Regions from separate parts of the Homo sapiens genome. Here region 2 is linked to region 1. The links come from fine-mapping of genetic effects on gene expression. Tissue or cell type: sun-exposed skin. Region 1 holds a variant in brackets; the other region holds the start of a gene. All regions are shown on one strand. Distances are from middle to middle.

Region 1 (8,108 bases):
AGCTAATGTGTTTTATTTGTGAATAGTCTTTTACATTTTTGTATGCTGAATATGGGCACCAAAGAACCTGTAAAAGTTATCTTTTTCAATTGAATGTGCACAAATAAAAGTTTGGAAAAGATCTCTCTTCATTCTATAACTTTTATTCCCCATTTTCTATTTTAACAAAAATTGTATTCATACTTCTTTTTTTTAAAATCTATGCAAGCTTAAGACTTTGGCTAAAGTGTGTTGGCTTCTTTTTGAAGTGTATTTTGTGTGTGTGTGTGTGTGTGTGTGTATATATATATATATATATGCACCACATGTGTATAGTATCTTTTAATGCTCTGTTACCAAATAACAAATAGGAATTTTTTTTCTTGCAGATTAGAAATAAAAACGTGTATATAAACTCTAGGGAACCAGACTAGAAGTTTATAGATAAAGGATAATGTTTTATGTTGCTAATTTAATATGATAGAAAATGTTAAATAACTTGTAAAGGTTAAGAAATTGTAGTTTTAAGAAGAGAAACCTCTTACCCACTAGATGGAAATGAGAAAGAAGCTGTGATGAATGGTGCCTCATTTGGACCTTTGTTTTTCTGGAAAGACTCAACACCTGTAGTTGTAGAGAAGTGATTGAGGTTCTTGACTTTAATCTTGGGTTGATGCCCAAGCCTATACTAAGAGTCTTGTCAGAAGTTGGTAACATGGAGATGTTTTAACAAGAAGTGCCCATAAGCTGCCTCTGTGCCACAGTGTAATTATCAAATAGCCCCACTTGAATTTGAAAGCCATTTTGTGTGATACTGTCCTTCCCCTTGCTGTATCTTATTTAATGGAGTTAAAGAGTGACTATTCAGTATATGAGATTGCTACTCTTAAAGTTATAATAAATATGCATTTATGAAACAGTGTCTCTGGCTCACCCAGGAGCCCTGATGTGGTAATACAGGATCAAGCTGTAGTTGTGCCCTGTCATTTAGGTTTAGGAGTTTAGTGTAACCAACAGTGATTATACCTAGAAATAAAGCTGAGTGGAGAGTCCAATTAGCTTCTCAGGAGAAACTTAATGGGGACAATATTCCAACACAATGTTCCACAAAAACTTGTATTTCCAAAATGTTTTTAAACCTTTGTGGAAAAATTGCAACATCCTAATCTCCATATATAGTACATTTTCCTTACTGTATTATAAAATCTTGAAAACCTAGCTTAGGCACTGCACTGAACAACACATATTATTTTTATCTTTTTTCTTCTCAATGCCTTCCCTAACCTCCTGCTTATTCCAAAGTGGAAAGCAAAGGCTAACTTACATTTTTCCTTCTTGTGAAATATTTCATTGAGATTTTTAGACTTGTATTTTTCCTTTTTTTTAAAAAAAAAGTGTTTATTTCCTTTATTTTAAGATTCAGTAGGATAGCCAAATTCATAGAGAATAAAATTACATGAAAGAGTTACAAGCTCACTGTTTTAAAGACTTGACATTTTTCATTTAGTTTTAATTAACAGTAATAAGTCACCTCCTGTTTTTCAATGTTCACCAAAAAAAGAAACATAGAATAGGGGGAAAACATGCTTATATAGCCAAGGTACAGATCCAGATGATGTAACCTTTTTAGTATTCGCATGACTTGAAAACTGGGCAGATCAATAGATAATCGAAGTGCTTTATCTGAAGGGAGAGGGTAAAGACAGTGTGACCAGGTTTGTTTTCAGGGCTGCCGAATGAGCCTCACCTAACAGTGTCCATGGGTAATTCGCTAACCTTAACAAAGATGGGAAGAAGTGAGTGCTCTGATGTCTTCTGCTGGCTCTCCATAAGTACTGTAAATTTTTTTTATAAATAAAAACTGTGAATATATATGTACAAGTTGTAAGTATTTCCCCCTTTTTATTTTTGAAAATCAAGAAGCTTGATTTGGTGTGGTGCAATGGATATTGGATAAAAATTTGAAGACAAAATTGTTTAGTTACAGACTCAGGATAATAAAAGAAAAATATAAAAGAATGCTCAAGATACTGAAGTCAAGGTCACTAGTAATAAACTGGCTAGGTTGATAAACAATTTCCTGCCCATTTATAATGAAGGGCTAAACAAAAAATACCTGAAGTATATATAGAGTTTGAACTATAAACACGGAAGGAAACATGGGGCAGAACACACTTCCCTTCTCTTTCCAAAAACAAAAAACAATGCATGCTCTGATTTGCGTATGAAATACACCATGATAGAATTGAGATCTCCAATCTCCTTTCCTTTTAGCTTCCCCCTGCCAATTTTTATACAGATAATACACTGCAGATCCAGGCCTTTTAGTCAGTCTCCTGAGTCTCTGATATAGTTTTACTACTTACATAGGTTTATAGTCTCTCCACATTGTTATAAAGGAATGTAATAGATCATGTTTCCTTATATGACATTGGGACAGTTTGTTAGGAACCAATAGGAAAATTCCAAGCTAAATAAAAAGGAGCTTTGGCTCTTAGGATTCTCTTTTCTTCAGGTTAATCATATTTTAAAATTCTTTTTCAAGTTAGGTTGTTCGTGCTTTTAAGTTTTTTGTGTGTCTTCCATCACTTAAATATTAGTAATTTAATATGTTATTTGGTTCAAGATTTGATTGTGGATTTTCTATCATACCCAAATTTTATTAGTAAGACCTCTTAACAAGTCTTTAAAATCAACTGGAGAAGTAAGAGAACAGTTCATCGTTGTGTGGGTGAAACCCACGTTGCTGGTACAGGTGGCCATCATAGAAAAGAACATGAGGGAATTGTCCTGATGTCTGAATGTCATTTATTGTGTCTTCAGTTATCTGAACATCATCATCAATTATAGCCTGTGTACCGTAACCTGAGGTAGTGATATTCCTGAGGAGTGTGAAGAATTGGACACTGTGGATTACTATACATTGTCATGAAAGCCTTACAAGGAGGCAGCTTTTCTAGGCTTGACTTAATAACTTCAACCTAATTGCTTAGAGATTTGGATAAATAACCTAATGGCCTGACTCCTTTTCTAATGTTTTACTAACAGCTACTTCTAAATAAATATGGTCCCAGGATTTTAAAATTGTCTTTTCTATGCATTTTTTAAAAATGGAAAAAAATGCTCATTTTTCTCAACTATTG[T/C]GGAATTATTTTAATATTTCACAATATTAACATGAAATTCATAAAAGGATATTTTGCATTAAATTATAGTTTATAGTTCATAAAATAAGCTCTATAATCTTTATACTTGTTGAATGTAACTAGGAATTACCACTAAAATCCTAGCCAGGACCCTCTCCTAATCTAGATAGAATATATGGGCAGTTGTCCACACTGTGTGTTCTGGTTCTTTTTTGCGTAAGATCCAGTGCAAGTAGTGTCTTGGTAGGCAGAAACTGTACCCTCATGTCCAGACCACTTGTGTGTCTGCATAATAAAGCTGCGACTGGCCTCCATACATACATAGCTTAAGGCGGAGGTTGATGTCTTCACTAGGACATAGTCTATTCAAAGGCTGCTCTGTGAAGAAGGTAGAAAGTATTAAACCAGCCAGTAACTTTTTTTTTTTAACCTGATATCCTGCTCAGAAAAAGAGATCACTTAGGACCTTGTACCTCATCTACCTTTTGAGGTTCCTTCTGGGGAGGAGGGGGATTAAAGGCTGTCTTTATCATTTCAGAGTGTCTCTTCAAAACCAGTTCCATGACACTGAAAAGAGAGCACAGGAGTCGCAACTATGCATTGGTCCAAAGACACCCTCCTAAGTGTTCTGGCACTATCCACGTTCAGAAGGTGTTGAGGCCATTAGGTCTCTGGAGAAAGCTGCCTGGATTGGCCCCTACCACACAGCTTGTTACACTCCAAGAGCTGCTCCTGGGGTTTTCTTTTTTGAGGCTGTTTTGGCACTAATTCTTCTTGGTGATGACTCATAAAACAAATGTTGTTTTTCACATAGTTCCTGAAAGAGAAAGAGGCACTAATGAAAATGTCATTCTTAGTTTACATGAAAAAAATGTGTAGGCTATTATTTTTTAAACCACCCTGGGGCTTTAATGTTTTAGCTATGCAAAAATAAATACACATTTTTATTAGGAATCCTGCTGCATCATGAAATTCAGTATGCCACAGACTTTGGTCAATCTCATGCAAGGGGTAACGGTGTCTTCTCAGAATACAATCCCAGCAGTCAGCTCTGTGGGGAAGGATTCCAAGGATAGTATTACATACAGAGAACCAGTGGAGGTTTCATCCCAGACCTTATTTTTTTCCATTTCTCAAACTCCAGCAATGTGCCTATATTTATATCTCTTCTATCTTCTACGTTATCCCTTACTCCTGCATTAACAAATTTTTCTACAGGATTCTTCCCATCAGCATAAAAAGATGCTATTGTATTTTACCTTTACTAAAAATGAAGAGCTGCCTTTGAACCTCCCTTTTCAAATACCTTTTTCTGTAATTTAACCAATGATTTGAGTGGCCACAATATGTAGGTAGTATGGGTTGAGTAGATAAAGACTTCTGTTTTCAAGGAGCTTACTTAGATTTTAGAGGGGAGACGAGCTTATAACTTGAAGTAGTAAAAGTGCAAATGAGAAATAAACGGGGAAGGAGAAAAAAGGGTTTAGTTGGGTGGGAGAGGACAGACTGTATTATACAGGTGGCATCTCTCTAAAGCAGTGACAATGATCAGAAAATGGAATGAAGTTAGGGAGGGAACTCCTGCAGAGAATCCCAGAGACCTGAGAAGTTGGGGCAGGGAAACGGTTGGTATCTGGAGGGAAATCTGAGGAAGGTATTTTTTCAGGATGGGAAATACTGCAGCTTTGTGCGTGTGTGCGTGATGATAATCCCATAGGAGGGGGAAATTGATGCAGTCAGTGTACAAATGGAAGCATTGGCCTTTGCAACAAGGCAGTGTGTGTGGGCATAGATGTAGGTAGGTTAGAAGATCTTGTGGCAGGAGGACAAGGTGGTCTCAATTTATTTTCTCAGTGAACTAAAAAGCAAAATAATTAGAGTGAAGAAGTGGGAGGGGGTCCTGGAGGCTTGGGAAAAGTATTGGTGTGAAGTAATCATCTTCGAAAGTAGGAACGTCAACTCACCAGGGAAATGTGGTATATTGCAGGGTATTCCTCAAGATCTACTTGAGATGTATGTTCATAAGGTGAAAACAAGGCTTATCAGCATAGTTGTGTGTTTGATTCAGCCAGGTTTAGCTCCTTGAATGCAGGGTTAAAATAAACTAAGAGTTGACTTGGTCAGAGTTAAGGTTTGCCTGAGTGATGGAGGGAGAGAGAAGAGAGTAAAGGGAGAAGGGGAAATGCGAAGAAGTGGCCTTGGTGGGCCATGGAAAGTAGGAAGCAGGGTAAGGAAGGAAGGGAGAGCATGGGCCTCCAGGTCGTCGTGGGGCTGAAGACTTGTTGAAGTGCCAGTACTTGAGGAAGTGGGCTGGAGAGATGAGTGGTTAGAGGGTGAGTGGAATGCTTGTGAATGAAGCAGTGATTGGAAATGAGTCTAGGGCATGACCATCCTGCTTTTCTGTTCCCCTTCACAGCAAAATTGATGTAAGGAGTGGACTGTTGCTTCTTCACTTCACTTCCATTTTGTCCTCCAACCACATCAGTCAGCTTCTGTCCTCTCATTCCGCTGAGCCTGTGCTTACATCTGTCTTTGTGCTTGGCCTCTCCAGTCCCACCTTCCTACAACACTTCTGGCTTTCCTCCAGCCTCACTGTTGGCTTCTTTTCAGTCCCTTTTAACACTCTCTTCTTTGCTCGGTCTCTAAGTTTGGCACAAAACTGGGCCTAGTCCCTTCTCTCTCTGTTCTCTGACCAGATAAGCTTATCTGGCTTCAGGACTTAAATACCACTTATAAGCTGATGGCCACCCACATTTGACTCTAACCCCTAGAGTCTCCAAATTTCAGACTTACGTATCCAACTGCCTACTACTAATGTGTCTATTTGATGTCTAATGGACATCTCACAATATCTCCAAATCCGAGCTCTATTCTGTCCTGAGCCCTGAAACCTAGTCCTCTCTCAGGCTTCTGCATCTCACCATCTGTCCAGTTTCTCAGCTAAAACTTGCAGTGTCATCCTGACTACTTCATTACCTTATTCTTGTATCCATTTCATTCATGTTTTTTCATCTATTCAATGCCGAGCTTCGATTATATGCCAAGGAATTGTTCCAAGTGTTGGGAAACAACAGTGAACAAAATTCCCTGGCTTCATGGAATTTAAATATAGCAGGAAGAGATAGACAGTAGACCAAGTAAAATGTAGTGTTTCTGCTTTGGTTAAAACTGAAGGATTGGAAAGTGGGTGCAGAGTTGGCTACACAATTGGGATTTGAAATAGAGGGACAGGAAAAGTCTGTTGGAGGTGAAGCAGCAAGACAGGTGGATATCTAGGATAAGAGAATTCGAGGCAGAGAAAACAAGTGCCACGATCTGGAGCCTTGAGCATGCTTGATGTGTCTGGGATGCAGCCTCTGGCCTGTGTGGCTGTGAGAGAAGAAGGGGAGATTAGCAGGCTGTGCAGGGCTGGAAGGGCATTGGAAGGCTTCTGCTCTTGCTGGAGAGCCACTGGAGGATTGGAGCAAAAGAATACCTTGATTGCATTTTAAGGGGTCATTCTGGCCACTGTGTAGAGAACTGATGGGAGGGGACAAAGGCAGAAATGGGGACCAGTAAGTGGGTATTGCAGTAATTCAGGATGGAGATCATGGTGACTCAGACCAGGGCAGCCGTGAAGGTGTTCAGGCTCTGGATATATTTTGAAGTAAGAGCCAACACAACTTCCTGATAGACTGAATGTGGAGTATGTGAGAAAGAGGAAAGACTCCAAAGTTTGTGGCCAAAGTAGTCGGATAACATTGACATCAACTGAGGTGGGTAAGGCAGTGAGTAGAATAGGTTTGAGAACATCACAGGTTCAATTTAGGGCATGTGAGGTATTAGGTATCTGTTAGACATTTGGAAAGACATGTAGAGTAAGCAGTTGAATAAACAAGCCTTGAATTCTAGAGAGATAGCTAGAGACATAAATTTCAGACCCTGGCATATCAATGAGATAAAAACTGTAAAACTGGCTGGACGCGGTGGCTCACGCCTGTAATCCCAGCACTTTAGGAGGCCGAGGTGGGTGGATCACGAGGTCAGGAGATCGAGACCATCCTGGCTAACATGGTGAAACCCCGTCTCTACTAAAAATACAAAAAAATTAGCCAGGCGTGGTGGCGGGCACCTGTAGTCCCAGCTACTCGGGAGGCTGAGGCAGGAGAATGGCGTGAACCTGGGAGGCAGAGCTTGCATTGAGCCGAGATGGCACTCCAACCTGGGCGACAGAGCGAGACTCCATCTCAAACAAACAAACAAAAAAGAAACTAACATTGACTGAGATCAACTGGCTGGTGAGGGTGATAGAGAAGTGGTCAGGGGACTAAGCCCCAGGGCACACCAACTTTAAGAGAGGAAGCAGAGGAATAGAGACCATAGGTAAGAGATAACCAGGGGACGGGTCGCAGAAGGATGTGAGGCAAGCATTTCAGGAAGGACTATCCCCAGCCAAGAGCACTATCTCCAGTCAAATGCTGGGGATAATCTAAGATGAGGAGTGAGAATTGACCACAGAGTTAACCAACATGGAGGTAATTGGGATGTTAAAAAGTAATTTCAGGAGCGGAGTGGCCATAACAGTCTCACTGGAGCAGCTTCGTGAGAATGGGAAGAGCAGAAGCACAAGTGATGACAGCGAATATAGACAACGCTTTAGAAAAACTTGGCTATACATAGTACCCAAGAAATAGGGCAAAAGCTGGAGAGAAAAGTGGCACAAAAAGACCTTTTGTTTTGTTTTGTTTTTAAAAAGATGGAGAAAGAATCATAGCAGGTTTCTGTGCTGATGAGGAGTAGGTAAAGATGCAGATGATGCAGCAGTGAGCTGGGAGAATTGCTGGAGAATGTGCCGGAGAAGGGAGAGAGGAGAGAGGGGGTGAAGGGGGCTCTCATAGGAAGGACTGCATTCCTACATAGGCCCTGGAGGAATGGTTGTGTATGTGGAAGGGGTGGAAGTTTCCCCCTGATTATGTCCATTTTCTCAGTGAAGTCAGAAGCAAGGCC
Region 2 (8,108 bases), 62 kb after region 1:
TTAAGCTAAACCCGGGAGAACAGCACTCAGTAGGAACTTAGTTACAGTTACATCTTACATACTCACCACCTGCCCAGCTTCCATTTAGGAAAAAGGAGTTCACAGCTTTAAAAGCGTTTTGAGAACAACTGCCTTAGAATGTTCATCTGCTGAGCAGAAGCGTGTATTTCTTAAATTCCAGACTGTGGCATCTTCAGAGGGGATAAAGGACAGTCCTTTCAGCTGAGTTCGTGAGTCCCGTTCTTCATGTTCTGGGTCCCAGTGCCAGAGAGTTCTGCAGTGCTGACAACCTGCACTCATACAGTAAATATTGTTCTTGTTTTCTGAACCTTTGGACAGTTGGGGGTGAAGGGAAACTTAAGAGGACTCTGTCCCCAGCCAATTGTTTGGATCATGAAATAAAGGAAGCCTGGGAGCTGAAGTAGAAGTCAGTATTGAATCTCCTGGGCCAGAGGCCACCAGGGTCAGTTCTGCACCATCCTCTGTGTGACCGTGGGCCGATCACACATCTTTTGACCTCAGATTTCCCTTGTGTGAGTTGCTCCATCCGTCTAATATCTCACTTCATTTATATCTGTTGTCAACTCTAGGCACCAGAATTTCAAACTGAGCTTAATCCTGTCCTATATTAAGATGGATTGGAACATGTCCATGAAAGCTGAAAAAATTTACTAAAAATGTAACCACTTTGAGTCATAGCTTATTGAAAATGAATTAAGTTCATTAGCTTCTAGTCATTGGAACAAAGCATTCTTTTCAGTTAAAGAGGGTTAGTCAAGAAAGACCTACCAAAATTTTTCACTGTGCACAATAGCATCAAGGGAGTTCAACTGCAGACCTTAGGGGGTTGGTTTTGTTTTGTTTTTCAGTATCTCACATGATTTAATTACCTTGTCCTGAGTTATATAACTCATTCCTCTTTGTGCTTTGATTTTTCCATCTAGGAATGTAGAAAAGCTTGCTACCTTCAAATGCAGACATATTGTGATAATTGTTGAGCATAATTTAAATACTCTGAATGTCTTAAATGAAAACTATGGAAGTTGAAAATATGAAGAAGCCAAAAGGAGTATTTGACAAATATTACCTCATTAAATCTCAACACCTTCATAAAATAGATGAAGATACAATCCCAATATTAATGAATGGAGACTTTAAGTAACTTAAGAAAACCATACAGCAAGTCTGCACTATGCATTCATTTATACATATGTATGTATAATTGCTTTTGGGTGCCAAAAGATGTTTAAGATAAGTTAAGAAAATTTACAAAAGTAGAAAATAAAAGGTTTGCATTCATCTAAATGCAGATTATGTATAGCACAAATCAAAGTTGTATTCATCTGACATTTTAAGGAAACATTCAGGCTTTCTCTTCTACAAAATGAAAGTTAATTTAAAATTAAATTTGAAAGATAATTTATGGTACTTATTCATTTATTATTTCTTTACAACATAAACAGTTGCACTTTAAGTTGAATTTTGTGCATGTAACCAACTATTGCAAATGTAAATACACATTATCTTTCTTCTGGATAATTGTGAATTTGTACAATATAAGCTATTAAGAGCACATTGTACCTTCAAAGCCATATCAAAATAAACAGTCCATTTTTAATGGTTACTACAAAGGCTCTTCCTAGGCAGTTTCTTTTCATCTTCTTTGTGACATTATCACTGACTGTATTTAGTGAGCCCTTTTGTTAACATCACCACCTCAGCTTGCTCTGCAGTCTAGACTGCAGCTCATGTTCCCAGGAATTTGGAGAAAAGAACTTTGCAACTCTTTCCCTTTATCTCCAAATATAAGTTTCCCTTGCCTGCTCTTAGGGAACTTGTGGGCCAATGAGTAGCAAGCGCTTAGGGAAAAGGGTACTTCTGCATAGGAGAGGACAGGCCATATTGAAAGATGACCCCAGATATTCTTTTATTATTATTATTATTATTATGTTAGACAGAGTTTCACTCTGTCACCCAGGCTGGAGTGCAGTGTCATGATCTCAGCTCACTGTAACCTCCAAGTGATTCTTGTACCTCAGCCTCCTGAGTAGCTGAGATTACAGGCATGTGCCACTATGCTCAGCTAATTTTTTTATTTTTCTGTATTTTTAGTAGAGATAGGGTTTCCGCTCTGTTGGCCAGGCTTGTCTTGAACTCCTGGCCTCAAGTGATCTGCCCACCTTGGCCTCCCAAAGTGCTGAGATTACAGGCATGAGCCACCACGCCCGGCCTCATTCTTGACGAGAAGTGTGAAAGCAAGAGAAGAGATCAGGACATGGAAGATGGAGGGCTTCTCCACTCCTGAAGAGGGCCGCTTCATGCCTCGATGTTAGGGGTCACAGGTTCGATTCCCCAAGATCAGACAAACCCACAAGGCAAACGTCAGTATTAGGACCATTCCCAAGAGAAAGGCAGATGTCTTTTGTATCATTTAGTGTATTGGATTTTGCATGAAATTTCTATATGCTGCTTGGGAATGTAATATCTGATTAAGAATACACAGCTGAGGAAAGTAGTAGGAAAGAGAAGATTTTTTGTGTTTGTTGTCATTTCATATTACAATTACTTTCTATTCCTTGCAGCACAAACTAAATGAGCAGGAAGAGGCAGCAAAAAGCGTACAATGTATTTGTGGGAATTGTAAATGTGGAAGTGAAGACCAGCCTCTGATTTATCAAAGATCATTAAATGAATTAAAACTTTTCCAAATTTCACCTTCAGAAGGTCATCATAGCAAACAAACCTCAGTTTGCAAGGCCAGTTTTAAAGAAGGCAGAACCCAGCAAAGCAAGCGTTTCAGGCTCTGAATAACGCTCAAATTCATCACAAACGTGCTGGGAATTTAAAAAGGAAGTTTGTGTTCTCATTGATTACATAACTAATAATTTTATGAAGCCTGTTTAAAATACTGATTTTTAAAACAGTGGTTATAATGTCAACTGGTTACACAGTGTCCATTTGTGACAATAAATGAAAAAGTGTAAGCAAGCGTGTGCTTGTGTGTGTTTACAAATGAGACTATCTTTGCCAGTGGACCGTTCCAATATGAAAAACATCCATACATTGTATTATGTAAACACAATCAAGGGGACCCATCATACCAGTGGTGGATGTGTAACCTGTATTTTCTTGGCACATAAGGTTCCACCAAGACTTCGATCTTCACAACATTACAGCTCCGAGCTGTCCCACGTCCCACCAGACCCTGTCCCCTTCTCTCCACTCATCCAGCGCGCCCACATGCGCGCGCGCGCATACACACACACACACACACACACACACACACACACACACACACACACGGGACTCAAGAGACAGTACACTCGGGAGATGAGTACAGCTTGCTTCTCTGCGGTCACCCGAGCACTGCAGGCTCACTTTACCTCTCGCCCAGGGAGGATGCCGGCTGCCGCTGCCCTCCGTCTCCACGGCTGTCCCCTTCTGGTTCAGCAGACTGGGGCCCTCGGTGTTTTCAACAGGTACCATGGTCACGTAGAAGTTACAGCCGCTTCCCCGCCACCAAACCGCCCCGACCACCCCCGCTCCCAGGAGTGGTCACTTTCCCCATAATAGCATGCTAAAGAAGAGTGTGGGGAAAAACTTCGGGCAAAGCTAATGTGATTTGTGACCAACTTTGTTTCTATTTCCGAAGGCTTTGCCCTTTTCGGTGACACAGGCTGTTGCTATTCCAAGCAGCCTATCACAGGCAGGGGGAGGGCCGTGAGTCAGAGGATTGTTTTTGCCTTTAGATGCAGAGTTGGAAGCAAGGGGTTAAAAGAAAGGGAACTCAGACGGAGTGTTTGGCCATTAGCTAAGGGTAGCTCTTGTATTCTAGCACCTTTGAAAAGAGGCAGAGAAAGGAAACATGCAGATTTAAATGCAAGCTGAGAGTGGGGATAGAATACTCACAGATGGTATCAGTTAATCTTGCAGAAAGAGGAACAATTTATGCAAAGACATACCAGAAGGAAAAGTGTGTCAATTTTTCAGCAAGACTGTTATTCCAAAAGTCATGGTATTTACCAGCTTACACAAAGCATAAAATACCTTTATTGTTTCAACCTGATTTTGGTCTAGGTAAAGGCCTATATCTTTCTCTCCAAGGCCTTTCAGATAAATCACAGCCTGAGACCAAAAATACACAAACTCAGAATGCACAGATTCTTTAGACTTTTTATATGCTGAGGTTATAGCAAAGTAATCCATTTCTTAATGCAGAATTGTCTTTAAGAGACAAATTAACACTGAATCCTCTGTTAGGTTTCATGTTTGCGTAGGTAGGAGGAGGATACTCCTCACTCAGAGAGGCCAGACTAAGTGGCCCATTGTGTGCGTGTGGTGGACATGTAATCTCAAACAAAATCAGGTCATGAGAGAGGATCTTTTTCTGATTTGTGAACATATTTATAAAAAAGTCTTACAGGGTTATGACATTTTACCTTCAGTTATTCATTCAACAAATCATGTTTATTAAAAAAAAAAGCCTTATAGAGGAAATTGAGATCATCTTAAAAATCATTTGGAATAAAAACTAACATGTGTGGAGCACTTATGTGCCAGAAATTGTGCTAAGCGCAATAACGCAGATGATGACTTTGAGGCAGGTACCAACATTATAGAAGAGGAAATGGAGGTTGGGTAACTTGGCTACAGTCTCACAGCTAATCAGTGGTAGAGCTGAGATTATGAATCCAGGAGGTCTAAAGCTGTAACTCTCCTATATTCTAACTTCCCAGCCTTGTCCTTCTCTAATTTTCTTGGCTTCCTATGGTTTCAGACCTACTCGACTTTAAGAAGATGCCGTGAAATATGGCTTTTAGTCATAGGCATTTCTCTGGACAGAAAAACAAATTTGTGCTTGTATAAGCAGAAGCTAAATTTTTGTTACTTCTTTTCAACATTTTAACTGAATCACTTCAAAGTTCTAAATTCACTTATTTGTACATTTCCTTTGCTTGTCATTAAATAATTCTATATTTTTCTTATCTTTCAGGGAAACAGGTAGCAAATGGAAACAAACCTATAATAATTCAACTAGTCTTTATTATGTACCCGTTGTATGTCTGCTGATAGTGCTAGAAAATGGAAGTCCTCCAGGCATAATCCAGGCCCCTTATGATTAAGAGGGTGAGAAGTTCAGAATCCCACACATCAGTGTCCCCACTAAAGAATGTGTAACGCAACCATGGTTTGAAACAACTCATTTTATTTGTTCCCAGGGTGCATTATAATTATATAGGAGTCCCAGTTTCTATCTGTGAGACACATATGTTTCCCATAAGTTCTCTATATTCTCTTGGCTTCTAACTTCTTTCTGCTCAGAACCAATGACCTCATTAGGGGGAAAATGTTCTTGCAATGGGTTAGTTGTATCATTGCTTTGTTTCGTGATCCCACAACCTGTGTTTCTAGCAGCTTCTTGGCCCCATGGGAGTGTTAGAGTGTTTGCTATAGTGCTTGACTAGACAGAAGACAAAACTAATTCCAGAATACTTTACTATGGTTAAAAGCAGTTCAACAGTTCTCACTCTGTTTTGTGTAGCCAAACCATACAGGAGATCCACAGGCATAGTAAGCCAACCAGGAGTCAAAAAGAATGCTCAGCAATGCAACTGACAACATCACCTCCTGGTGCTCCTAATTCTGTTCTTTATTCTGCTGGTGACCTGACCGGGGCCACTGGCTATCTCAAGCTCTGTTTGTACTTACCTCAATCTCTTAACTCAGAGAAAAGTTTAGGGGAGAAAATTTTTTTCACCCAGACTAGAGGGGGGAAACTCTGCCTCAATTCTGTTACGAACCCTGTACTTCTCCTTCCCAGCCTTTTGCACACCATAATGTATTTAATACAGTTAAATGCGGTGATTCAATTAAATCTGCCTTTTCTGCTAGATTGCAAACTCTATGAGAGTATGGACTATGTTTGTTTAGTTTATTATAGTATTCTGCGTGTCTGGCACTCAGCAAATACTCAGTAAGTATTTGCTGGCTGACAGACTGATCCCTGTAAATCCAATAAACTTTAGCAACACTAGAATGTATGCTCCAAGAGGGCAGGCACCTATTTCTATCTTGCACATTCGTCCAGCTCCTAACACAATGCCAGGCATGCAGTAGACACTTAATAAATATTTGTTAGATAAATGAGTGCTCACAAATAGAGCTTTTAGTGACTAAATAACTATTTAGTTTTTAAATATTAAAATCCATATGATGATTGCCTATGACATTTTGTCCTTCCTCTCTGTTTCTGCCAATTCCTTTAGACCAAGTATAACCACAGGCTATCCATCTTCCCTGGAGTTTGAGCCACTTCCATTATTAAAATCTGTTCCTCCACTCAAGGAATTCATAATCAGCAGACAGCAGACAGTTCATTCTTCATAACCCCAATAATTTTGCTACATACCACTTTGGACCACTGCTCATAGGCAATGCTACCAAATCCAAAAACACCTATCCTGACTTATAAACTGGCACAGCGGGGAAGAGGGGATGAAAGACAAGCAGCTTCACAGGGCTCGTAAACATCTACCATAGAGCATGCCTATTTTCATGGCAATTTTTTAAAAGCTTCACAAAAACCTTGTGAAGTAAATACCGTTACTTCCATTTTGCAGAAACTGAAACCGAGAAGTTTATGAAACATTTCTAAGATCAAAACATTTTCCAATGTTGAATTATAAAAATTTGAATCCCACAGGAAAACCTACACTCGACATTTTACCATGCTTGCTCATTCACATCTATATATAACAATTCTTCCATCCATCAGTCGATCCGTATTAGTTTTTATACATATCAAAGTAAGTTGAAATACTTCAGAATGCATATTATTAAATAGAGTTCAATACTAGGTTCTTTTTTTCAAGACAAAAAAGCTCCAGAAGCAACCAATTTTCTGATATTTTTCCACATAGATTACCTTTGCTTGTTCTAAACCTTAATTCATATAATGGAACCACAGAGAATGCAGCCTTGTGTAAGGAGTCTTTCACTGAGCATAGTTTTGATATCCATCCATGTTTTTATGTATATTAGTAGTTCATTTTGTTTATTGCTGAATAGTGTTATATGGGTGAATACACCACAGTTTATCCATTTTCCTATTGATGGACATCTGGGCTGTTTCCAATTCTTTGCTATTACACATAAAACTGTTATGAGCACTCTTGCACAAGTCTTTTTATGCAGAACATAACATTTCAGAGCACAGCAGTTCAAGTCCATTTGATTCCAAAACCCAAATGCTTTTCACTACACCGTATTGTTTCCCTGCAGTGCACCCTGCAGTGCACATTGATGTGGAATGCACCTTCTACAATGGTTCATTACAGTGTAAACACAAATGGGAAAATATGGTCTTTATGCAAACAAAAAAATTCCAAATACAAATTCACTTCTTGTTTAGCCTAATTGCAATAAAATATTCATCTTGGTATGATTGTTTGGAAGGATGTTTATTATTTCACTGTTTATACTATCTAAATAACTTCTCTATCTGAAAGTTTTCATTATGACTTCTTTCCTTAGGTGTAGAATATTATCACTCATAACATGTTGATTAAAGTTCCTCAAATTACAAAGTAAGTGTGGTTAAATTTATTATGGTATGTTCACTTGCTATAACATGTGATAAATCATTAAAAGAAAGACAATGTAGCAATGCAAGAAAATGTTTTTCCAATTATTTTAAGTGGGAGAATCAAAGTGGCATACAGAAAGTTGCATACTCATTACTATTACAATACTTTCTTAAAATATATGCGCCTATTGGTAGAGACTGGAAGGAAACTTGGAACAACTGAAAATAACTAATAGGTTGAGGTGGTAAATCATGTGTAAAAAGTACTGTCTTAAAAGTTGTTTGCTTAATGCTTCTATCAGATTGTATATATAATAAATATAAATTTGAAGAAAACTTCTTCATACTTAGGGCTGCCATATACCATTGTGCAATTTGGACACAGTACAACTCTAAGTGGGTCATTCTCATTTGCAGACAGCAGAAGTTTGCTTATTTATAAAGCAAATCTTCCAGAATATGACAATACTAACCTGAAGAAAGGGCAGCTTTTTCTAATTTGCTCAAAGGTACATTTGGGCAA

What was found. PIP is the estimated chance that this variant, and not a neighbour inherited with it, causes the effect.
Region 2: SLC2A12 starts here. The variant in region 1 is fine-mapped to the expression of SLC2A12 in sun-exposed skin (GTEx, PIP 0.94). The same link has a PIP of 0.9 or more in aorta.

What each region holds. Positions count from the first base shown.
Region 1 is chr6:133,987,370-133,995,477 of GRCh38, forward strand. It overlaps TBPL1 (TATA-box binding protein like 1), which reads left to right. Exons shown (of 7, transcript NM_004865.4): 7 at 1-3,063. It overlaps SLC2A12 (solute carrier family 2 member 12), which reads right to left. Exons shown (of 5, transcript NM_145176.3): 5 at 212-3,939. The coding sequence ends at 3,786. Among named protein-coding and RNA genes, the nearest start is that of TBPL1, 38 kb to the left of the region's middle. The variant T/C (reference allele first, on the strand shown) is at 3,123.
Region 2 is chr6:134,048,995-134,057,102 of GRCh38, forward strand. It overlaps SLC2A12 (solute carrier family 2 member 12), which reads right to left and starts at 3,630. Exons shown (of 5, transcript NM_145176.3): 1 at 3,384-3,630. The coding sequence starts at 3,486.